4 linked regions of the Homo sapiens genome follow. The protein of the gene in region 3 purifies or fractionates together with the protein of the main gene of each other region. This does not show direct contact. Each region holds a gene or a part of one and is shown on either strand. Other genes may lie near its edges.

Region 1 (8,459 bases), on a different chromosome or scaffold from region 3:
GAGCCGAGATTGCGCCACTGCAGTCCGCAGTCCGGCCTGGGCGACAGAGCGAGACTCCGTCTCAAAAAAAAAAAATAAAATAAAATAATAATAATAATAATAATAATTAAATGAAGCTGAAATAAACAGGAAAATTAGTTTTATTTTTTTCCTGAGATCCACGTGCATCTTTATGCTTACATACCAACTTTGGACCCCACTGCAAAGCTTCCTTATGATTTAGCATCCCTGCAACCATTCTAGGTTAGTGCCCTTGACTGCTTAAGCAGAAACTGTCAAATGGCAGTGGTCAAATTGCTGTCACCTTCTTGCTGAGTTCCACCATCCCCACACTAGAGTCAGTGACGCTGGCTTCCTCCCACCACCCCTACCACCTTCTTCCACTACCCTTACCTGCCAATGAGCAACAGAAAAGACTGTGGGCTGCGTGCAGTGGCTCACGCCTGTAATCCCAGCACTTTGGGAGGCCGAGGCGGGCGGATCACCTGAGATCGGGAGTCTGAGACCAGCCTGACCAATAGGGAGAAACCTCGCCTCTACTAAAAATACAAAATTAGCCAGGCGTGGTAGTGCATGCCTGTAATCCCAGCTACTCAGGAGGCTGAGGCAGGAGAATCGCTTGAACCTGGGAGGCGGAGGTTGCAGTGAGCTGAGATCACGCCATTGCACTCCAGCCTGGGCAAGAAGAGCGAAACTCCATCTCAAAAAAAAAAAAAAAAAAACAGACTGTGGAAGCAGGTACAAGAACAGCATAAAAGGATGGACTCTTTTGTCAGCCAAATCTCAGTTTGCACACAACACACTCCGTCTCAAATTCGCTAGGTGACCCAGGGCCAGTCAAATAACTTTTCTAAAACTCTCCGTAAAGGGGGTGATAACAGTGTTATCTCACCTGGTTATTATGAAAACTAAGTGAGATAAGCTAATATTACAGTACCTAGGACACTGCCTAAACAGCACAAGTGCTCGATATCACCCAGAATTATTACTCTGAGTGGCAAAAGACGACACCTGAACCTTGTTTCTTTAGCCAACTCAGTAAGGTAGCAAGTTCTAACGGAAGGAGCTCAGGTGGCAGAGGTGTGGCAGACCTGGTTTGAAGGATGATCCACCCTTGACAAGCTGGGTGACCTTGTAAGAACCCAGCTTCTCTATGAGGAGTCCTCTCATCTGTTCAACGGGGGTGATGACACAAACTGTATATGAAGTACCTGTCAGAGCCGGTAAAACACTGGCAACCACCAATGGTGAGAGTAAGCAAACAGCACATGAACCTGTCATTCCAGGATCCCTGAGGCACATTCACATGCATGGCTAGATTCTGAGAGAGAAAACATCCCTAAAGTCTACCACCAAATGTTAATATACATACCTGCAGTGAAGCCCACAGGCACACTTTTTCTTTCCTTTTTTAGTTTATTTAATTCCTGAATCGCATATGCCTCCATTTTTCTAGTAATAAACTTGTAGTAAACTTTTTACCCACCTAATGACAGTGACTGAGGGAACGGGGGAAGGGCCCCAAACCAGTGATTATAAAGTCCACGGAGATCTCTAGAGAGGGGGCGTTTTTGCCGCAACAGCAAAAGAAAAGAGAGAGCATTCAAGCCAGGCGCGGTGGCTCACGCCTGTAATCCCAGCACTTTGGGAGGCCGAAGCGGACGGATCATGAGGTCAGGAGATAGAGACGATCCTGGCTAACACGGTGAAACCCCGTCTCTACTAAAAATACAAAAAAGTAGCCGGGCATGGTGGCGGGCGCCTGTAGTCCCAGCTACTTGGGAGGCTGAGGCAGGAGAATCGCTTGAACCCGGCAGGCGGAGGGTGCAGTGAGCCGAGATGGCGCCACTGCACTCCAGCCTGGGCGACAGAGCGAGACTCCATCTCAAAAAAAAAAAGAAAGAAAGAAAAGAGAGAGCATTCAAACATCAGATCAGTTCATAATAAATTTAAAAAGCCTAATTCTTTCCATTTCAATTTATGACCAAAAGAATAAATATGGAAATATATTTATACAGTGTTAAATATATTTATATAGTGTTTTTTACATCATGTGCTCAGTGGGAATACTGCAAATGTGTAAAACACCTAAAATGTAAACTATATTAACACACATTTTAAAAGATACAGGTCTTGGCCGGGCACGGTGGTTCACGCCTGTAATACCAACACTTTGGGAGGCCAAGGCTTGTATAATGCTTGAGCCCAGGAGTTAAAGACCAGCCTGGGCAACACAGCAAGACCCCCATCTCTACAAAAAAATACAAAAATTAGCCGGGCGTGGTGGCACACACCTGCTGTCCCAGCTACTGGGGAGGCTGAGGTGGGAGGATCACCTGAGCCCAGGAAATCAAGGCTGCAGTGAGCCGAGATCGCGCCACTGCACTCCAGCCTGGGAGACAGAGTGAGACCCTGTCTCCAAACAAACAAACAAAAAACAAGTCTTTAGGCATCACTGAGGAACACCTAAAATGGATACAGCACTAACTAGACACCCTCGACCCTGACTCCCTAATAAAAGCGTCAGTCTTTTGCTCAATATCCTGACCTGACAGCAAACCAATAAAGACACGGCATAACCAAACTCCACAAATTTTTGGCCAAATAAAAGAAACACACGCAACGCTAACATTAAACCTTTTCTATGGCCGCTTCACGATAAGTATTACAAAATCCCCAGAAAGAGTTTATTCACCTAGCTCCGACTGTCGCCATACAAGGTGGAGCAGTGAGTGACCCGAACCAGGGGCTGACCCCTGCCAGAGCCCCCACAGCGACTCACTGCCCCCCCCTCCGCATTCCCATCTGCACAACTTTCTGTGATTCAAACAGTCCGGAGCCAGGGCTCCCTGCAACTAACGCTATCGTGACATTATAAGCCGGTTAAATACTGAGGTCATAAACCCACTCAGAAGTAAACAGAAGCAACATTAGTGAGCAAAGTTGAGGTTTAAGCAATACGGAAAACTAGAAACCAAGCAAAACCAGCAAAGCAACTAGCGTTGTCTCTCAATAAGATCTTCCAAAAGAGGCAAAGTGGAGAACCTGCTCTCCCCCGCACTCCGGAAAACCCAAACAGCACCAAAGCAGGTTCTACAACAGCTTCCCGGAGCAACTAGGCCAGGGGATGCGACGCCGCGCATCTCCCCCCGTCACACCAGGGGCCCGCGGAGGTCTGGTGGGGACGCGGAGCTCCAGGGGCCGGCCGGTGCAGGGACACGGCCGGGTTGGGGGTGGGGACGCGCGGCCCTGCCTCCTTGCCGGCCTGCGGTCTCCAGGGCCGGCCCGCACGGCTGCTGGACAGCGCCATGCCCACGCACCCCCGAACCTAGCGGCCCCCATTCCGGAACTCCCAGCTCCACGCGGCTGGGGTCGAGCTGGGGCCCGCGGGCAGGCGCCCTGAGCACCCGCGTGACGGTACCTGTGGTGGCAGCACCTCCCAAGCTGCGGCGGCGGCGGCGGCGGCGACGGGGGCGGCAGCAGGGGCGGAGCGCGGCGTGCGCGCTCTCGGCCCGCAGTCCGGTGCGTGGCGCCCTCCCTCTCTCTCCTGGCCGCCGGGTGCCCGCCCCTTCACCTCTCACCTCCTACCTTTACCCTCCCGCCCCGCCGCCCTCCGCACGTGCGCCCAGCGGCGTGCGCATGCGTAGTCGAACCACATTCGCGTCTCCCGTTCGCCCTCTGGTGGACACCGGAGGGAAGTATGGACGGCCGGGCCGGGCCGGGCCGGGCGGAGCGTGAAGCCGGGTTAGGGCCCGCCGGGTTTGGGCCCACCGGCTCTCATCGGTCATCAAGAACTTGCAGAAAGCCGGGCACGGTGGCTCGCGGTTGTAATCCCAACACTGTGGGAGTCCAAGGCGCGAAGATCGCTTGAGCCGAGGAGTTAGAGACCAACTTGGGCAACGTAGGAGACCTCCGTCTCCACAAGTAAAATTAATTAGCCGGCTGTGGTGGCGCGCACCTGTGGTCCCAGCTACTCAGGAGGCTGAGGTAGGAGGATCACCTGAGCCCGGGAGGTCGAGGCCACAGTGAGACAAAAAACAAAAAACCCACCCTGCACAAGATGCTCATGTTCCCTGTTTTATAATGGCAAAAAATTAGAAGCAGCTGGGCCGAGATACACTGCAAATGCAGATGAGAAGAATAAATAATGTCCATAAAACTAGTTTCCCTATAGACATTTAAAAGCATAAGTTGACATTTAACCATTTTCCACAGGGAACAGGTATTTGTTATAATAGCAACAGCTACGTTCACTGTTTACTAGGTGTCAGTTGCGGAGCTGGTATTGTACATGTCCTCGCATTTGGCCCTCCTGAAAATCCGAGGTAGGTCTTGTTACAGGGCCTCACAGAAGGGGAAGGGGAGGCTGCCTCCCCTCGAGGGAAACACAGGTCCCCACCTGCCCAGCTCTGGCCCAACTAGAGACGCTGCCCGGACCACTCTGGGGGGACTTTGATCATGCTACTGCATGCCCTTGCTGTACCCAGGTCTTGTGTCAGAGGTAAGCCTCCCCTCAGCCCCTGCCTACTGCCCGAGACACCCGCACCCACCCCAGGGCTACCTGGATAAGGCAGGCCCTGTACCTGCCCTCAAAGGCACCAGCAAACTTCTCTGGGAGTTCCAGAAAGTGCAGATCTAGTCACCAATGCAAGGCAGAAATTAGAGGTGGCCCTTCTGACCGCACCAGCCCCCGACCCACTACACATTCTTCAGATACCTCCTCCTAAAACCCAGTTCCCACCGGACTCTGGCCTCCCTCCTTGCCCACCACACTATTGTCACAATGAAAGTAACAATGGGGACAGTGGGCCTTGGCCCAAAGTGACTTTCAGGGTTATGACATTTTCAGCATTGTCTTTTGGCTTAATATGGGAATTTTGATCCTATAAAGAAAGTATTCGCTGGGCGCGGTGGCTCACGCCTGTAATCCCAGCACTTTGGGAGGCCAACACGGGCAGATCATGAGGTCAGGAGATCGAAACCATCCTGGCTAACACGGTGGAACCCCATCTCTACTAAAAATACAAAACAAACAAAAAAAAAATTAGCCGGGCGTGGTGGCAGGTGCCTGTAGTCCCAGCTACTCGGGAGGCTGAAGCAGGAGAATGGCATGAACCCGGGGGGCAGAGCTTGCAGTGAGCCGAGATCATGCCACTGCACTCCAGCTTGGGCGACAGAGCGAGACTCCGTCTCAAAAAAAAAAAGAAAAAAAAAAAGAAAGAAAGAATTTTTTAGGTTATTTTTATTTTTACATTTGAGGTCTCACTCCTTTACCCAGGCTGGAGTGCAGTGGTGTGGTCATAGCTCACTGCAGCCTCAACCTCCTGGGCTCAAGTGATCCTCCCAAGAAGGTAGGACTACAGATGAGCGCCACCATGCCATTTTTGTTTTTGTTATTTTTATCAAGATGGGGTCTTTTGCTGTGTTGCCCAGGCTGGTCTCAAACTCCTGGGCTCAAGCAGCCTTCCCATGTTGGCCTCCCAAACTGCTAGGATTACAGGCATGAGCCACCGTGCCCATCCTGTTTGTTGTATTAAATGAGAGAGAAGCAACAATAGAGAGCATTCAGGGGAACTTACCTACACCCCTTACCTATCCTGACATCACTCTCTCCAGGTCTGATCCCTTGAAATACCATCATTTGTCCCCTCAGAAACCTTGGGCATGAAGGAGTCCTCCTGAGCCCTGGGCCCACTGTACCAAAGTCTTCTCTCCAGAGAGGGTCAGGAGCCTGTCTTTTAACCACCTCCATGGCAGGACTTAGCCAGACTGCCTTGGGAACTGCTGTCATTCTCCTCACTCACCACCTCTTCCCACCCAACCACTCCATCAAAGCTGTGTTTGCAGAGGACTGACCCTCAGTGAAGTCTGGACACTCCCCCACAAAAAATAAGAGGCTCCAAAACTGACAAGCACCTAGCTAAGTACCTTTGTGCCTTGAAGCATGGCAAACAATCCTCCACTGCCCTAAGAGAACCCACTGAGAATCCTGTGGAGCCTCTGGGGAAGCTGGGGTTTATGGGGCCCTGGTAAATCTGCTACAGAATGCCCCCCATGGAATATAATGAAGTGGACATGATTTTTGGGCTTCTCCCACAACATTTTTTTTTTTTGAGACACAGTCTCATTCTGTTGTCCAGGCTGGAGTGCAGTGGTGAGGTGTTGGCTCACAGCAACCTCCCCCTCCCAGGTTCAAGTGATTCTCCCACCTCAGCCTCCTGAGTAGCTGGGATTATAGGTGTGCGCCACCATGCCTGGCTAATTTTTTTTTGCATTTTTAGTAGAGACAGAGTTTCGCCATGTTGGCCAGGCTGTCTCAAACTCCTGATCTCAGGTGGGATCCACCCGCCTCAGCCTCTCAAAGTGCTGGGATTACGGGCGTGAGCCACCTCACCTGGCCCTTTTTTTTTTTTTTTTGAGACCAAGTCTCTGTCACCCAGGCTGGAGCACAGTGGCACAATCTTGGCTCACTGCAACCTCCACCTCTCAGGTTCCAGCGATTCCCGTGCCTCAACCTCTTGAGTAGCTGGGACTACAGGCTTGCGCCATCGCGCCAGGTTTATTTTTGTATTTTTAGTAGAGACGAGGTTTTTGCCATGTTGCCCAGGCTGGTCTCGAACTCCTGGGCCCAATCGATCCACCCGCTGTAATCCCGGGATTACAGGTATGACCCACCATGCCCAGCCTCCTACAACATTTAATATGAAAACATAACAGAAAAGTTGAAAGAACCATAGAGTGAACACTCATATACCCTAGATTCAACTATTAATGTTTTGCTTAGTATCTCATGTCTATCTAAAAAAATCTATCCTTTTATTCATCTATCTGTAATTGCCCAAGGGTTCTTCTTGCCCACTGCGCAGACAAAATCAATTCACTGAGGCCTTGGCATTGCAGTAAAGAGTTTCACTGACGCAAGGCTGGCGATGCACAAGGCCACGCAGAAGATGGAGCTGTTACTCAAATCAGTCTCCCCAAAGGCTTAGAGGTCAGGGTTTTTCAAGGATAGTTTGGTAGGCAGGGTGCTAGGGAATGGGAAATGTTGATTGGTTGGGGATGCAATCATAGGAGGAGTCCTCAAGCGCTGAGTCAGCCTCTGGGTGGAGTCAGCAGAAATGCAAAAGTCTGAAAAGAAACACCTCAAGGCCGGGCGCGGTGGCTCACGCCTGTAATCCCAGCACTTTGGGAGGCTGAGGCAGGTGGATCACGAGATCAGGAGATCGAGACCTTCCTAGCTAACACGGTGAAACCCCGCCTCTACTAAATATACAAAAAATTAGCCGGGTGTGGTGGCGGGCACCTGTAGTCCCAGCTACTCTGGGGGCTGAGGCAGGAGAATAGCATGAACCCAGGAGGCGGAGCTTGCAGTGAGCCGAGATCATGCCGCTGCACTCTAGCCTGGGCAACAGAACGAGACTCTGTCTCAAAAAAAAAAAAAAAAAAAAAAGAAAGAAAGAAAGAAAGAAAGAAAAGAAACATCTCAAAAGGCAAGTCTTAGGTTCTACAATAGTGATGTTATCTATAGGAGTAACTGAGGAAGTTACAAATCTTGTGACTTCCAGAGCAATGACTGGTTATCATTTAACTACACCTACACCTTAGCAGAATTCAGGCCCCTCCTATAAAAATCCTAGACTTGTGGCTTTTCATTAGTTTTACAAAGGCGGTTTAGTTTTGGAGAGGGCTAATGTCATCCTTGCTTTAAGGTTGAACTATAAATTCCTCCCAAAGTTACCTTCGCCTATCCCCAGGTTGGAGGTTAGAAGCAAGATAGAGCTGGGCACGGTGGTTCACTCCTGTAATCCCAGCATTTTGGGAGGCCGAGGCAGGCAGATCACCTGAGCAGGAGTTCGAGACCAGCCTGACCAACATGGAGAAACCCTGTCTCTACTAAAAATACAAAATTAGCCAGGTGTGGTGGCGCATGCCTGTAATCCCAGCTACTCAGGAGACTGAGGCAGGAGAATAGCTTGAACCTGGGAGGCAGAAGTTGTGGTGAGCCGAGATCGTGCCATTGCACTCCAGCCTGGGCAACAAGAGCAACACGCTGAGAGAAAAAAAAGAAAAAGAAAAGGAAGCAACATGGAGTCAACCATGTCAGGTTTTTCTTACTGCCATAATTTTGCAAAGGTGATTTCGTATCAATCCTTTATTTTAAGAGATAGGGTATTGCTCTATGGTCCAGGCTGGAATGCGGTGGCACAATCACAGCTCACTGCAGCCTTGACCTCCTGGGCTCAAGCAAGCTTCCCAAGTAGCTGGGACCACAGGTGGGTATGACCACTCCCAGCTAAATTTCAGAGTTTTTTAAATAGAGATGAGGGTCTCTCTGTTGCCCAGGCTGGTCTTGAACTCTTGGCCTCAGGCAACTCTCCCATCTTGGCCTCCACAAGTGCTAGGATTATAGGTGTGAGCCACCATACCCAGCCCCTATCTTATTTTTGATGCACTTCCAG
Region 2 (3,640 bases), on a different chromosome or scaffold from region 3:
TAGGCTGCAGCTGAAGTTCAGATCTTGGGAAGTTATTTCTATCCACCTCCAGGCGTCCTGAGGCAGGGCAGGGCTGGGCCTGCCAGCAGGTCCCAGATCTAGCCCCAGCTAGGTGGTGGCAGTACTTTGTGGACACACCCAGGTCCCCATGGGAACATCCCCTCCTCCATTAACCCTCTCTAACTGGGCCTGTGCCAGACTGGGCAGATGCCCGTGGCCTATGCCACAGAGGTGACAGGATGAACAGGGGAAATGGTCTCAGGCTCCATGACAGCAGAACAAGAGAGCAGAAAAACCTGGGGTGAGGGGAGTGGCAGGAGGGTCATAGGGCATTAAAACATCTTGCTCCACTAGGATAGCCATCATCTGCCCGTACCTGCCCCAGTCACCAGTGGTTTGAGCACAGGAAAGCGCACACACACACACCCCCACCACACACGCACGCACACAACTCTCACTCTCCATTTCCCAACATCACGACACCATTTTACACCCATTTCTCCATGTGGTTAATTTTTTTTTTTTAGTTCTCATTTTTTTCTAAGAAAAAAGCAACAAGAAAATAATTCAGAGTTTATACAAAACATCTTTACATTATTTTTTTTCCAAAAAGACTAGTATTTACACAAATGGCAACAGAAACAAAAACAAAAACCCTTCCGACTGCCACCTGGAAGGGGCTGGCTGTTCTGCTCCCTCTCCCACCTGGCACTGGGGTGGGCAGCTGGCCAGGAGGCAGTGTGGAGGTGGATGGTGTGAGGGCCAGCTCCTTCCATGGCTGCTCTGGGAGTGCCTGCAAGGCGCACTCAAGTGGCAGTCTGTTAGCAGCCGTGCTGGCAAGGAACTGGGGTCAAAGTGCACAGCGGGCTGGCCCAGCCCCAGGCAGCCTCTTCCTCTTTCCAGGCCCCAGCCCAAGACTGGGACAGCAGCAGGAGCTGGGTTGGGTGGGGGTTACCCACCTGTGCTAGGGCCCAGAAAAGGAGCAGGCCACCTGGTCTTATACCCGCTTAGGTCTCCACCCTGGGCCTCTGTTTCCCCACCAGGCCAAAGGATGCCAAAGGTAAGGAGAGAACAGGGTGGGGGGTGGGGGTGAAACTCCCAGCTCTGCAGGGCAAATAGCCACCTGGGCACCTCACCTCCCTCCACCCCCCATGAGGTCATCTGCCTGCAGCAGCTCTCCTGTTCCCCAGGCAACAGCCAATTAAGACATTAATTACCGTGAGAGTGAGGGAGGCAGGAGATGCCCAAGAATCCCACAAGGAAGGGATTTTTTTTTGTGTGTGTGTGTGTGTGTGTGTGTGTGGAAGGGTGGCAGTGACTACCCCATTGCCAGGATAAGCCTCGTAGGAGGGTCAGGAGGGGAGGGTGGGACACCTTGCCCAGTGGCACTTTCCTCTTCCCTCATGGGCGTGAACAGCCCTGGCCTGCCCCTTACCCCACCAGAAATACCAAGGAATCTATAAAAGAAATGGCATCCTATGCTTCCTGGCTGACCACATCGTGCCCCAGGCCCTCTTGTACTGGCTTGGGCCAGGCTCACAAAGCCTGGGGAGGGGCTGCCTTTTACATTTTTCCATTTTTCTTCAAAAAACAGATGAAAATGAGTTGACAGCTAAAAAATGAACACAAAAGCATTAAAAACAGTGATGATAGCGGACAAGCAGTCCTGGGAAGGTGGCAAGGGGGGCGAGGGAGGGGCAGGGCCAGGGGACTGTCTCCCTGCCTGCTGTCCATCAGTGTCCAGCCCTGCCTTCCAAGAAGGGGCGCCCCCACGGAGCCCAGAGGCCTGGCCAGAGGGGGAAGGCACAAGAGCATGGGGGTTAGGGGCACAAGCACCCCCCTCCGAAGCCCAGGGGGCAGGGAAAAAGGGGGATTATAAAAGCCAAGAAACTACAAAACTAAATACAAAGGTGGGCACAGCTGGCAAGGGGAGGGGGTGTGGGGGCGAAAGGAGAGGTCCGGTCCAGGCCGACTGTCCCTCGGGGGCCTGAGGCCGTGCCGGGCACTCAGACCTTGTAGTAGATGTTCGCCGGGCTCTGGGGCGGCATCTCTTGGACGATGTAGACAGGGTGCCCGTAGTCCCCACTCACCTTCTCATAGTGGGGGCAGTAGTTGTTCTCTGTAGTCCGTAAGGGAATGATGATGTCGCTGGGCTCGGTGCCCGCTGTGCCACTGCCCCCCTTGGGACTGGCCAGGGTACTGAGCGAGAGGGCAGCCGCCCGCTGCTGTGTGTGCTTGCGGTGCCGCTTGCGTAGCTTCAGTAGTAGGACCGTCAGGAAGATGATGATGAGCAGGAAGATGACGCAACCGGCACCGACAGCCGCGAACAATGCCACCTTGGAGTTGAAGAAGCCATCAGGGTCCCCGCTGCTGCCCCCACTTGCACCTGGGCCACTCTTCTCTTCCTGGTTCACAGTCTCTGAGGAAGGGAAAGGGGAAGGAACAGTCAGCCAGGGGTCCCAGGGACACACAGCAGATTTCAGGCCAGGCCCAGCTTGCATTTCTTCAGGGACAGGGCCTAACAAGGTGACAGAGCAATGGCTCCTGACCTCTGGGAAACACATACACTTACCATGCTTGCCATCAGAGTCACCCAGGGAGCCCCGACTACCAGGGGCCTGTGTGGCCATCTTGACAGTGTTGTCTGCCTCCTTGCTGGGCCTGCTGGTAGTCAGCTGCTCAGGCGTCACAGCATTGGGATCTAAGAATGGAGACAGAACAGGTGAGAGGCAGGGACCCGGCCAGCATAGGTGCCCTCAGTCATCAAGGGTGGGCCAAGAATGGCCTGGATACTGTAACCCTACGCCTGCTCCCCCACTCCTAATACACATGCACCCAGCCAGGAACATCTGTTCCAAAGGTCAAACAGGGTGGGGTGAGGGGACCCTCAGACTAGGCACTCACCTTGCCCAACCTTCATGATGATCTTCATGGTGCGTGTGCGGCACACACCGCCCTCCCGGTTTTCCAGCCCCTCCAGGCTTCCATTGGATGTTGCTGCAGGAAGAGGCCAGAGAAGTCAGAGAAGTCAGGAGGAGAGAAAGGTCTACTAGCATTACCCAGAAACTCCCATTCTGCTTCAGCCAACAGGGAGAGAAACTGCAGTCGGGAGAAGCAAGCAGCTCCCATCTACCAGTGAACCTTTTCATTTTCTTCCCTCCCACTAGGAACAAAATGGCCTAGTCCAGCCCAGGCCAAGAACAAGCCCCACCCCCAGGGGCACTGCTCCTCTGTCACGAGCAGGCCATGGCCCCTCGGTAAGGTCTGCCTCCTCACTGGGATCATAATGGGGGCTTCTACATAGACTGAAAGGAATTCTGGAGTAGGAATCAGGAGAACTGGGTTGGAGTCCTGACCCTATCTCTAACTCACTGTGTGATCTAAGGCAAGAAGTCCCTTCACCTTTTGGGGCCTTGGTTTCCCCTGAAGAAAAAGGCTGAATAGCTGGCTGATCCCAAAGGGCCTGGCATATGTTACCATTCCCAATATTAGAACTTAGGTGGGCAAAGAAAATAAGAGAGAAGCAACACGAATTGGAGACCTCTCCTGCCCAACCCCTGGAGCCAAGGTGAGCTTGGTAAATGTTGGGGCGAGAATTCCAAGGCCAGGCTAAGAGGAGAACATGCCAGTCTTCAAAGGG
Region 3 (7,918 bases):
CCCCGGCACTTAGGAAGGGGTGGGCACCGTGACCCTGGCACTAAATAAGGAAGGGATGGGTGCTGTGACCCTGGCACTTAGTGAGGAAGGGGTGGGCACTGTGACCCCGGCACTTAGTGAGGAAGGGGTGGGCACTGTGACCCCGGCACTTAGTGAGGAAGGGGTGGGCACTGTGACCCTGGCACTTAGTGAGGAAGGGGTGGGCACTGTGACCCCGGCACTTAGTAAGGAAGGGGTGGGCACTGTGACCCTGGCACTTAGTAAGGAAGGGGTGGGTGCTGGGGCCCTGGCACTTAGGAAAGGATGGGTGCTGGGGCCCGGCAGAGCCGGCAGGCACTGTGACCCCAGCACTTAGGAAGGGGTGGGTGCTGTGACCCCGGCACTTAGGAAGGGGTGGGCACTGTGACCCTGGCACTAAATAAGGAAGGGATGGGTGCTGTGACCCTGGCACTTAGTGAGGAAGGGGTGGGCACTGTGACCCCGGCACTTAGTGAGGAAGGGGTGGGCACTGTGACCCCGGCACTTAGTGAGGAAGGGGGGTGGGCGCTGTGACCCCGGCACTTAGGAAGGGGTGGGCGCTGTGACCCTGGCTCTTAGTGAGCAAGGGGTGGGCGCTGTGACCCCAGCACTTAGGAAGGGGTGGGCACTGTGACCCCGGCACTTAGTGACAATGTTGGAGCCTCACCTCCCAGATCCATAAAGCAGGGATCATGAAAACCAACCGAAGGCAGCAGGGCCTACGGGGCACTCAGGTAAGGGAGGCGTCCACCTGGGCAGGGAGACATCCCTCGCACTGGCTGTCCCCACACCGCCCCATCCCCAGCACGCTCTGGTCTGTGACGTCCACCTGATGTGGCACCCGTCAGCAGGTGCTGGACACAGTGGCTCTCCCTTGTCTCCCCAGATGTCAAGAATATGAACACGTGGCTGCTGTTCCTCCCCCTGTTCCCGGTGCAGGTGCAGACCCTGATAGTCGTGATCATCGGGATGCTCGTGCTCCTGCTGGACTTTCTTGGCTTGGTGCACCTGGGCCAGCTGCTCATCTTCCACATCTACCTGAGTATGTCCCCCACCCTAAGCCCCCGATCCCCCCAAGGCTGGGTGGTCAGAGCTGCTCATCTTACACCTCTACTTGAGTATGTCCCTAACCCTGAGCCCCCCACGCCTGGGGCCAGAGTCTTTGTCCCCCGTGTGCGCATGTGTTCAGGGTCAGCCTCTCCCAGAAGTGAGATCATGGACAAAAAGGGCAAATCACAGGAAGAAATTAAATCCATGAGGACCCAGCAGGCCCAGCAAGAAGCTGAACTCACGCCGAGACCTGCAGGAGTGGTGCCAGGTGCTTGAAGTAACAAGTTTAAAATGTTCAGAGACAATGGAATGGAATCTATTAGGCAAGAACAGGACATTATGAAATAAGGACAGGTGGACTTCCAAAAACACAAGTAGAAATTCTAACAATGAAATATATTACAGGCAGGTCACCCACTAACCAAACAACTGAAGCGAGAGCTGGTGGTCTTGCTTGGTCTCACAGTGGGCACAGCGGTAGGCGGTCAGTCATGTTGCTGAACGACGGAGGGTAAACTCCCCAGCCCCAAGGAAACCTGTGTTGGAAGTAACAACAACCTCCCTGCTCCTGGCACCAGCCGTTTTGGTCATGGTGGGCCAGCTGCAAAGCGTCTTCCATTCTCTGGGCAGTGGTGGCCCCGAGGCTGTGGCCTCTCAGGGGGTTTCTGTGGACACGGGCAGCAGAGTGTGTCCAGGCCAGCCCCCAAGAATGCCCTGCTCCTGACAGCTTGGCCAACCCCTGGTCAGGGCAGAGGGAGTTGGGTGGGTCAGGCTCTGGGCTCACCTCCATCTCCAGAGCATCCCCTGCCTGCAGTTGTGGCAAGAACGCCCAGCTCAGAATGAACACACCCCACCAAGAGCCTCCTTGTTCATAACCACAGGTTACCCTACAAACCACTGTCCCCACACAACCCTGGGGATGTTTTAAAACACACACCTCTAACGCATATCTTACAGTCACTGTTGTCTTGCCTGAGGGTTGAATTTTTTTTAATGAAAGTGCAATGAAAATCACTGGATTAAATCCTACGGACACAGAGCTGAATGTGCTGTTTTCAGAGTTTTAATTTTGGATGTCAAGGCCAGTGCCTGTATAGAATAGGTGCTTAGGATATGTTTACTGAATGGAATGGAACTAAAGCCTCAGGTGTAACTTCATGGAGACACGCGTCTGCCTTGTAGAATGTTACAGGCTGCCTGTTCCTGAAGCTGAAACCCTTAAGAGTGAGAAGTCATTTGGGCCTCCTTCAAAACTCTCCACCCTTCTTAGAATCAGGAATATTTTTAAAAGTACTTTCTAGAATTATCTAGCAATCTCTCTTATATTTAAATATTTTTGGGTTTACCACCTATGAAGGCTTTTCTGGAGTTTCACTCCACCCAGAATTCATCATCTCTCCTTATCAGGAAATCTCTCACCCTCAGATGCTTAGAGTCAGGGTGAGTCCCCCCACAACAGGAGAATCGGCCGAGGTTGGGCCGAGGCCACATGGTCTCATCCACATGTGCCGCAGATTAAGGGATGCTCAAACTGCCCAGTAATACAAAGTCTGCACTTGTCATTTTTTTCCAACTTTGTGTACAAAATGTTTCCCTGGGTTAAAATAGTCAATGCCCACTGTGTGCTGAGCACGTGGGGTGCTGCAGGCCCTTGTGCTGCAGAGAAGCTGGCCCTTGCCTCAGGCGGCAGAGCAGGGAAGTGCAGTGGGCCTGAAGCCATGCGGGGCTGGGAGGGATGACCTGGTCTGTCCTCTGAGCCAGGCACTGCACTTGGAATGGGCTTCTTGAACGCAAAGCCCAGACCAAGTGTGGCAGAAACATGAAAGGACAGGCAGTCGGCTGCTGTGGGCGGGAGGCAGGACGCCCAGGCCTGTCCCCACCCCCGTGACCCAGAGCCTCCCTGGGCAGTGACTCCAGGATGTCCAGGAGCTTCTTCTCTACCTCACAGGACTGGAGAGGCTGTGGTGAGACGCATCCTGTGAAGGCTGGGCTGGCCACAGGCAGCTCCCCAGGGCGCCCACCGCCATCTGCTCCTCACTGCAAATAGGCCTCTGTGGGCGGCCGCCCCAGTCTCCAGAAATAGTCACAAGACATCGGCTCTCACGGTGTTGGTGTTTAGGGAAAGAAGCATGGAGAGTTTGGCCCCTCCATGGAAGCTCGTGGCTGAAATAGGTGCAGAGCCCATTTTATTAACGTTTGTTAAGACGGCTCTTTTAGATAAACGGGTGTATCAGGTTTTGCTTTGCTTCCCTGGGCTGCTTTGCTGCCTGCAGGACAGGCCAGGTGGGTAGGGCTCTGGCCAGCCTGCTGAGCTGTCCTGTGGGCACTGTGCAGGGCTGCAGGGATGGTGACCTGTCTCAGCCCCATCAGAGGCTGTGCTGAGTGGCACTCACAGCACTCGTGTTCACCTCCTGGGCCTGGGGCTCTCAGCACGCTCAGGAGTGTGTGGTCCCAGGACCCGCTAGCCAGCACCTCGGGGTGGCCGCCCCACTGCGTGGTCCTCCGACTGTGGGGTCTCTGTGCATCCCCCAAGGTGCGCCCCACCCAGTGTCCAGATGTGGGGAACCCCACAGGCCATCTGGACCCTCAGACAGAGCGGCCCCTCCTGAGCTGGTCTCTTACCCCTGCCAGCGATCCCAGGGGATCTGGAGCAACCTCTCAAGCTGCATGGTATAGGGGACCCAGGTCTGTGAGAGACAGCTCATCTCTGACACCACTAACAATGCAGCTCAATGAGGCCGTGGCAGGCGGCAGGGGCGTGGGTCAGCACTGTTCCCCAGGTCGCAGCTGCAGACCCCTCCTGCTGACCATCAGCTAGCTGCAGAACTGGGCCCACAAGGCACCTGCACTCATCCTGACCTCACAGGGCCTGCATGGTGGGCGGAGCAGTTCTCCCTGTGCAGGGGCCGGATCAGTGGCACTGGCCACTCTGCTGAGCTGTCCTGTGGGCGCCGTGCAAAGCCGCAGGGCTGGTATCTTGTCCTGTTCCTCCTTTTCCCTTTCCAGAGGCCAAGAAGATGACCACCTTTGAGTATCTCATTAATAACCGCAAAGAAGAGAGTTCAAAACATCAAGCAGTGAGGAAAGATCCATACGTGCAAATGGACAAAGGAGTTCTCCAGGTACCACCTGTCTCTCTGCTCCATTTCTCCAGGCCTGGGACAATGTCTAAGGTCACTCGGTGGTTGGGACCTCTCAGCCATGCTCCTTTACTTCAGGGCCGATGCAGCCCATGGACTCTGCTGTGTGTGTGTCTGTGTGTGAGGCTCTGTGCATGGGTGTGTCTATGTGTCTTTGTGAACATAAACACCAGTCATGCACCACGGACTTCCTAGTGCAAAGATAGGAAAGGAACTGAGTCTCCTGGACATTTCTATACTGCACGATACATCTTCCAAAGTTGAAATGTGCTTTTTGCATCTTTTTTTTTGAGACAGAGTCTCGCTCTGTTGCCCAGGGTGGAGTGAAGTGGTGAAATCTCAGCTCATTGTAGCCTCCACCTCCTGGGTTCAAACAGTTTGCCTACCTCAGCCTCCCAAGTAGCTGGGATCACAGATGTATGCCACTACGCCCGACTAATTTTTGTATTTTTAGTAGAGATGTGGTTTTAACACGCCAGGCTGGTCTCAAACTTCTGGCCTCAGGTGATCCGCCCGCCTTGGCCTCCGAAAGTGCTGGGATTACAAGCATGAGTCACTGTACCTGGCCTGAAACATGATTTTTAACTTAAGGAAGTTAGTTCCCTTTCCGGTTAAGTGACATGAATTATTATAACTAACTCAAGAAGACATAGAAAGTCTAAATAGACATAGAACAGCCAAGAGACTAAACTACTAATTTAAAATCTCCCAGTGAAGAAAAATCCCAGGCCCTGTAGTCTTCATGCATGAATTCCAGCAAAGATTTAAAGAAAAAATACAATACAACCTACACACAGACTCTTTCAGAAAACAGAGAAGGAAGCAACACTTCCCAACTCATTCAGCAATGCCACTATCAACCTGACACCAAACCAGATATTCATAAGCCAGTACATTCAGGAAACACAGGCAGAGATCACTGATAAGACCTTGGGAAACCAAATCGAGCAGCACGGGGCAGGAATGTGCACTGTGGCCAAGTGATATCACTCCAGGGGTAAGCAGTGGCTTAAGGCCTAGGAATCAATTACTACAGCTCAGCACGTTAGTCCAATAGAGAACGGTAACCACGCAATCATGCCAATCAATGCAGAAAAGGGTTTGTTAACAGCAAGTTCCCATTCATGATTTTTAACAAATCTCAGTGACCTAGGAATGATAGGAAAGCACCCTGTGTACCTGACGTGACATTTACTGGTGAAAGGCTTGTGACCCTCTCTTGGAGGCTGGGCACAGGTGATGACGCCCTTTCCTCCTACTTCTGATATCACAGTCACATTCTGGCCAGCCCAGCATAGCAGGGAAAATGAAGGCACAGAGAATACAAAATAAAACTGTGTTTATTTGCAGACAATGAAACCTAAAAAGTATGTTTTAAGACCTAGTTAAGATAATTAAATCACTTAACAAGGATGTGGGGCACATATTAAAATACACGCTCGCACATCTCTATCCACCAGCAATGAAAAATCCGGGTTATATTTTTAAAACTTCCTTTCATAGTCTAATAAAAAAAGAATAAATTTGACAAACCTTATGCAAATATGTACACTGAAAGCTACACACCATGACTGAGAGAAGTCAGAGACGCTCTATTAAGTGAAAAGGTGTACAGCATTCATAGATTGGAAAAAAATACTATTAAAAGGGCAATTTTCCCCAAAACTTATCTACAGATTTACCACAATCCCTGCTGAACCCCAGCAGGCTTCTGTTTTAGCAGAAATGACAAGGTGGTCCTAAAATGTATATGCAAATTCAAAAGACCTAGGCTACTGTACTAGCCAAATGATTTTGAGAAAAAATAAAATTGGAGAACTTACACAACCAGACTTTAAATGTTACTATAAAGCTGTAGCACTAAAGACAGGTGGCGCTGACAGAGAGAGAGACATAAAGCTACAGTAATAAAAACAGTGTGGCACCGACAGAGACAGATATAGAGAAATGGACCAGAAGAAAGGTCCAAAGTTAAAGCTTTCATTTATGGTCAATTGACTTTAAATAATGGTACTAAAATCATTAAATAGGGAGAAATTATAGTTCAACAAGTGGTACTAGAACAATTGGATATCCACATGGAAAAGAAAAAAGAATGATTGAGTTCTTCATACCTGTACAAAGATTACCCAGGATCACTTCATTCGCCACGGAAGAATTAGCCCCAAATCCATCTGACACCTAAACTTAAAAGCTGAACATAGAACACTTCTAGAAACAAGCATAGAATGAAATCTCTGTGATCTTTAGTGAGACAAAGCTTGTCTTTGATCTGACACCAAAATCACTGCCTATTAAAGAAAAAAATCATAGTTTGGACTTTACCAAAATTGAAAATATTTGCTCTTCAAAAGTCACCATTAAGAAAATAAAAATACAGGCACACATGAGAGATACTGCAGGTTTGGTTTTAGAAAGCCACAATAAAGTAAACATGTCAGTAAAACAAGTCACATGAATTTCTGGTTTCCCAGTGCTTATAAAAGTTACGTTTACATGACGTGTGCAACAGCATTATGTCTAAAAACTATGTGTCTGAATTAAAAGTGCTTTATTGCTAAAAGCTGCTTACACAGACAATTGAAGTGAGCACACACTGCGGGGAAAATGGCGCCGACATACTTGCTTGACCAGGGTCACCACAAACCCTCAATTTGTGAAAAAACACAGTATCTGTGAAGTGCAGTAAAGCAATGCACAATAAAGCCAGGTGTTCATTCCTGTGCAAGCCACAGGCAAACAAAATATTTTCAAGTCTTAGACTGATGTCCAGAATACACAAAGACACAAAGAGCTTTCAAAGTGCAATTGTAAAAAAACAACAAACAAAAACATAAACAAACAGAAAACTCAGTTTTTCAAATGGGCAAGAGGGCTGGACACAATGGGAAGCACCTATAATCTCAGTGCTTTGGGAGGCCAAGCAAGAGGATTGCTTGAGGCCAGGAGTTCAAGACCAGCCTGAGCATCTCTACAAAAATAAATAAAAATACATACATACATATAAAAAATGGGCAAAAGATTTGAACAAACTCCTTACCAAGGTAGATGTAGATGTATAGATATATGGATGCCACATAAGCACATGGAAAAAAATGCTCAACATCATTCTACATCAGGCAGCTGCAAATAAAAACCACAATCAGATACTACCACACACCCAGGAGAATGCTTGTCATCAACAAGACAGACACCACCGAGGGTTGGTGAAGTTGTAGAGAAATTGCAAGTCTCCTGCGTTTTTTTGCTAGTGGGAGTTAAATGAGGGTGTAAAGTGCCACCACACTGGAAAGCAGTTTGGCATTTCTTTAAAAGATAAATGTCTAATACATGACCAGAATCCCACTCCCAGTTTCTCACCAGAGAGAAATGAAAACACGTGCACACGTAAGTGGTTCTGAGATCTGAACTCAGGACCCAAGAGAACTCCAGGTACCATTCCTCAAAACCCAGGAATAATAGACGTCACTTTTATGTAAGAATCAGCTGCATGTCAACAACTTCTTTTTTCATGTGACGAATTTTCTTTTGCCCCACAGCAAGGAGCTGGCGCCCTGGGCTCATCTGCACAGGGGTAAGTTGCAAGCTTCCTGCAGTAGCTTGGTCCTTCTGAAGAATAGCTGTATTCTTTTCTTAACTCAAATGACTTTGGAAAATAATTCACCTATGATGAGACATTTTGAAATCATGGGATGATGCAGTAGAAGATA
Region 4 (3,752 bases), on a different chromosome or scaffold from region 3:
CAGAGGCCTAGGTGGTACTTTGAACTTCATCACTCACTGTACCACTGAATCACTTGAAATCTCCACATCCAGTTCATCTTCCTTGATGTCATTTGTGGTCAGCAGGAGACTGCGACCAAGCTGGCAGTTATGGCAGTTTCCCTTTCCTGTCATTATTTAGAGCAGACTTTCAATCCCTTGACATGCCACGTTTATGTAGTGTGACAAGCTTGTTTATAGAGCAGAGTGCCTTAGGAACTTAGTTCCTAGCAGTGTCTAACGTGCAGAAGTTGCTCAATTAAAGTTTCTGGCCGAGTGCGGTGGCTCATGCCTGTAGTCTCAGCACTTTGGGAGGCCGAGGCGGGTGGATCACCTGAGGTCAGGAGTTCGAGACCAGCCTGGCCAACATGGTGAAACCCCGTCTCTACTAAAAATACAAAAATAAGCCAGGCATGGTGGCACACGCCTGTAATCCCAGCTACTCGGGAGGCTGAGGCAGGAGAATCGTTTGAACCCGGGAGGCAGAGGTTGCAGTGAGCCAAGATCGCGCCATTGCACTCCAGCCTGGGCAACAAGAGCAAAACTCCGTCTCAGGAAAACAAACAAACAAAAAAAAAAAACCACTTCCTGCTGATATTGGGCCACTCAAGCTTAGCTTTTCAGTTTTTAAATAATCCATAGTCATTGCACCTCTTGACCTGAAAGAGTAATGGTTTTCTTCATAGTGTCCTTGTGGCTTCAAAGTATTGATATCTACTTTCCCCTAAAAGCAAAGCAGCTCCTTTACATCTTCCCAGAAATACAGCCTCATTTCTGGAACCCATACATTTCTACTGGCCACTGCCTTTGTTGTTTTTAATACCCGCTTATTTAGATATAGGAAGAGTTTGGAAGCCTTATCATCTGGACTTCTAGGAACAGCCTCACAAAGCAGTTGGCTTCAAGGGATAGCATTGATGCAGAGCTTTGATGTTGGCTGGGCTTCCCTTACCCCACAAGAGCCAGTTCCCCTCCAGGAGGACCACAGAGGTGTCAGAACAGCCCAACACTGGCTTGCTTTTAGTTGCCATTTGAAACAAGCAGCATGGGGCTTGTTAACCTGGGCAGGAAGGCTGGGAGGAGCATGCCACCTTTGCAGTGATGAACTGAGCGAAGTGAGGCATTCTAATGTTCTACTGACATACGTAACAGGAAGTGTGGGTACATCCAGTGACTAGAAAAAACTGAAAAGGAAAAAGACTCAAAGACTGGAATTTTGTATGAGCACCCTCTAAGGAAGCAGTCTTTATTTGCATTTTTAGAGTGAACACATATATGAAAAACACTGCAACAGGTTGACACAATGCTCAGTCCCTTTTTAAGTGAATTCCTGGGGAGAAAGTCAAGGACCTTAGGGAGCAGAGCAGTGGAATGCAAACACAGAAATTACCTATGAGTCACTTTTGTGAGCCAATGACACGGCCTCACTGCAGCCATTCCAAGAAGTATCTTTGCTCACGGTAAATGCAAAGTAAACAAAATACCACACTGCATATTTGAAACAAACAAATGTGACGTTGCCTATACTGGCCTCATGTGCAGAAGGAATTTTGGTCAGACAATGACAAAAAAAAAAAACAAAACAGATTGTGAAATGGAATTAAAAGCACAATTCTTTGTATCTGGGAACGTTTCACTGGCAACACTAACTGTATGATACAGACGTTACCTGGAACAGTAGTTATGTTTCTCTTCCTATCCCCAAAGAAGCACAATAGAAGAAATAGACGCAAAATGGAGGAGGGTGTTGTTTACCAGGTTATTTCAGTGCAGCCTGTGGGAATGAATACACGGGCCACAGTGAGCAGTGCCCTTGGCTGTATTCCCCAGGGTTCTGTATGTTGTGCGATGGTTATATACAAGAGGGTTTGACAAAAGAGAGTTAACTACTAAAGGTATCCAAAAAAGGCCTGAGAAAATCTGGTTAAAATGTATAACCTTGTATTGCTACTGATGGGAGTTGTTTTTATATCTTTTACAAATAATAAAAAGATTGTTAAAAAATAGATTTATCCAGAAAGATGTTGATTTGAACTCTAAAAAGCAACGTGGAATCATTATTTTCCCTTTTGAATGAAGAGCCATGGAGCTCCGTGGTTTTCAGCTCCCTTTCTGGTTGCAAATCAATCCTTCCTCTGGAGTGAGTCTAGGGCATGCGGGCTCTTCCTAGGTGTCTACGTGGAAATCCTTCACTCATGCAGGTGTAGAACACACCTGGTTTGGTTCTGTGTGTTCCAATATTTTGGCCAGCTTGCCCACTTCAAGAACAAGCCTCAGGTTCCCCTAGCTGCTCCTTCAGGGACAGGATTAGCTGCCTTTGATTTAGCCTGGAGAATCCTGCTCTCAAAAGAATTGCCTTTACAAATTCAAATCAGATCCTTCGATGCGTGCAGTGAGGTGATGTGAAACTATTAGTAATGTTTAAGGCTAAGGCAACATCCATGGCCATTTGTGTATCTTAATTTGATGCAAATAGTTAACAATAATCTAAAATAGATTCTATATGTATCTCCTCTAACTTTAGCTGGGTGTGGAAGGAATGGAATCAGATAGATGGAGGAAGAATAATGACAATGTCCTAGAAACCCTGTAAAAAGGTAAAAATAAGGAGATCAGCACAGATTACCCATTTCTTTGGTGAACAGTAAAGAAGTGTCTCCAATTCTCATAGATCACACTTTACAAAGGCGGCTGCTGCTCTTATATATAAAAGCACCCTGACTCTGCAATAACTTGTCTTGTTATCACTCCTTGATAAAAATTTATCTACAAACCTGCGGGGATTGGGGTTTTGTCTAAAGCTGGTAGTAAAAATGTGACCTGCAAGCCAATACAGCTAATGGAAAGTGATGATGCTCTCCTCCCCTTAGCCTGGAGATGGGGCCTGCAATCCCTGGTCCCTTCTCCACCCCAGGGAGCAGCCTGGATGGGCCCAGGAGTCCCTGGTTCTGCACCTCTGCATAAAGAAGGGGCAGTTGTTGCCTGCTGCATGCACGCAAGGTGCAGGCCCTTAGCCCTAGGGCCCTGGTTGACACAGCATCTGTGACAGCCCACAGCCTCTGCTTTGTGCAGAGGCTCACAGGCTGAAAGGTCTATTTGTCAGTGAGTGACAGCTGTAAGACTTGCTGGAGCTCAGCCTCTTCCTCCTGGAGCCGGAGCTCCCATTCCTCCAGCTCTTTGGCAGAGAGCTCCATGGCTAGCTGCAAGTCATTATCAAAACGGCTTGTCTCGCTCAGGGCGCTGGGGCACAGGCCTTCTGTGCTGGTGAGGAGGCTCTCCTGGATGGCCCTGGGTTGGAAAACAGATAAAAAGGGAGAGTCACTACTATCATCATCATGGTGGCAGCAGTAACTACATTTCTTAACCGCTTACCAAGGGCACACTGTGCCAGGCATTTAATATGCATGATGCCAATTAATCCCACATAACTGGCGGTGTAGGTGTTGTATACGGGTGAGAAACCCCACAATCTTGCCCAAGACCACCCAACCAGTAAGTGATAGGGCTGGGAATTGAACTTGGATCTGTTTTAAAGCAAAACTCAGGTTCTTCATCAACAGGCTCTCATAGACACCTTAAGTATAAGTCTTCGTAAAATGAATCCTCGCGGTTTTTCCCGTAATCTCTGGAGCTGTTCCTCCAAACTTCCTTATCTTTACAATTATATAAACTTCCCACTGAGGACATCTAGGCCCTGTGATCATACATCATTCATAGAAGATCAAACCAATCAG

What was found.
Region 1: the proteins of ZDHHC11 (region 3) and SCAP purify together in Homo sapiens (co-immunoprecipitation; 2 studies listed by BioGRID and IntAct, with this or other methods). This does not show direct contact.
Region 2: the proteins of ZDHHC11 (region 3) and EFNB1 purify together in Homo sapiens (co-immunoprecipitation; 3 studies listed by BioGRID and IntAct, with this or other methods). This does not show direct contact.
Region 4: the proteins of ZDHHC11 (region 3) and ANKRD13A purify together in Homo sapiens (affinity purification with mass spectrometry; 2 studies listed by BioGRID and IntAct, with this or other methods). This does not show direct contact.

What each region holds. Positions count from the first base shown.
Region 1 is NC_000003.12:47,472,378-47,480,836, forward strand, and holds the start of SCAP (sterol regulatory element-binding protein cleavage-activating protein), read right to left. Parts: upstream 3,565-8,459; 5' UTR 3,422-3,564; exon of another isoform or gene 3,046-3,421; intron 1-3,045. UniProt on the Homo sapiens protein: Escort protein required for cholesterol as well as lipid homeostasis.
Region 2 is NC_000023.11:68,839,021-68,842,660, reverse strand, and holds the end of EFNB1 (ephrin-B1 precursor), read right to left. Parts: intron 2,998-3,640; coding exon 2,905-2,997; intron 2,702-2,904; coding exon 2,573-2,701; intron 2,420-2,572; coding exon 2,007-2,419; 3' UTR 501-2,006; downstream 1-500. UniProt on the Homo sapiens protein: Cell surface transmembrane ligand for Eph receptors, a family of receptor tyrosine kinases which are crucial for migration, repulsion and adhesion during neuronal, vascular and epithelial development.
Region 3 is NC_000005.10:833,637-841,554, reverse strand, and holds part of ZDHHC11 (palmitoyltransferase ZDHHC11), read left to right. Parts: exon of another isoform or gene 1-710; coding exon of another isoform or gene 711-752; intron 753-904; coding exon 905-1,060; coding exon of another isoform or gene 1,061-1,136; exon of another isoform or gene 1,137-1,207; coding exon of another isoform or gene 1,208-1,336; exon of another isoform or gene 1,337-1,473; coding exon of another isoform or gene 1,474-1,583; exon of another isoform or gene 1,584-2,113; intron 2,114-3,016; coding exon of another isoform or gene 3,017-3,050; exon of another isoform or gene 3,051-4,074; coding exon 4,075-4,190; intron 4,191-7,747; coding exon 7,748-7,782; intron 7,783-7,918. UniProt on the Homo sapiens protein: Endoplasmic reticulum-localized palmitoyltransferase that could catalyze the addition of palmitate onto various protein substrates and be involved in a variety of cellular processes.
Region 4 is NC_000012.12:110,036,913-110,040,664, reverse strand, and holds the end of ANKRD13A (ankyrin repeat domain-containing protein 13A), read right to left. Parts: intron 3,307-3,752; coding exon 3,111-3,306; 3' UTR 902-3,110; downstream 1-901. UniProt on the Homo sapiens protein: Ubiquitin-binding protein that specifically recognizes and binds 'Lys-63'-linked ubiquitin. Does not bind 'Lys-48'-linked ubiquitin.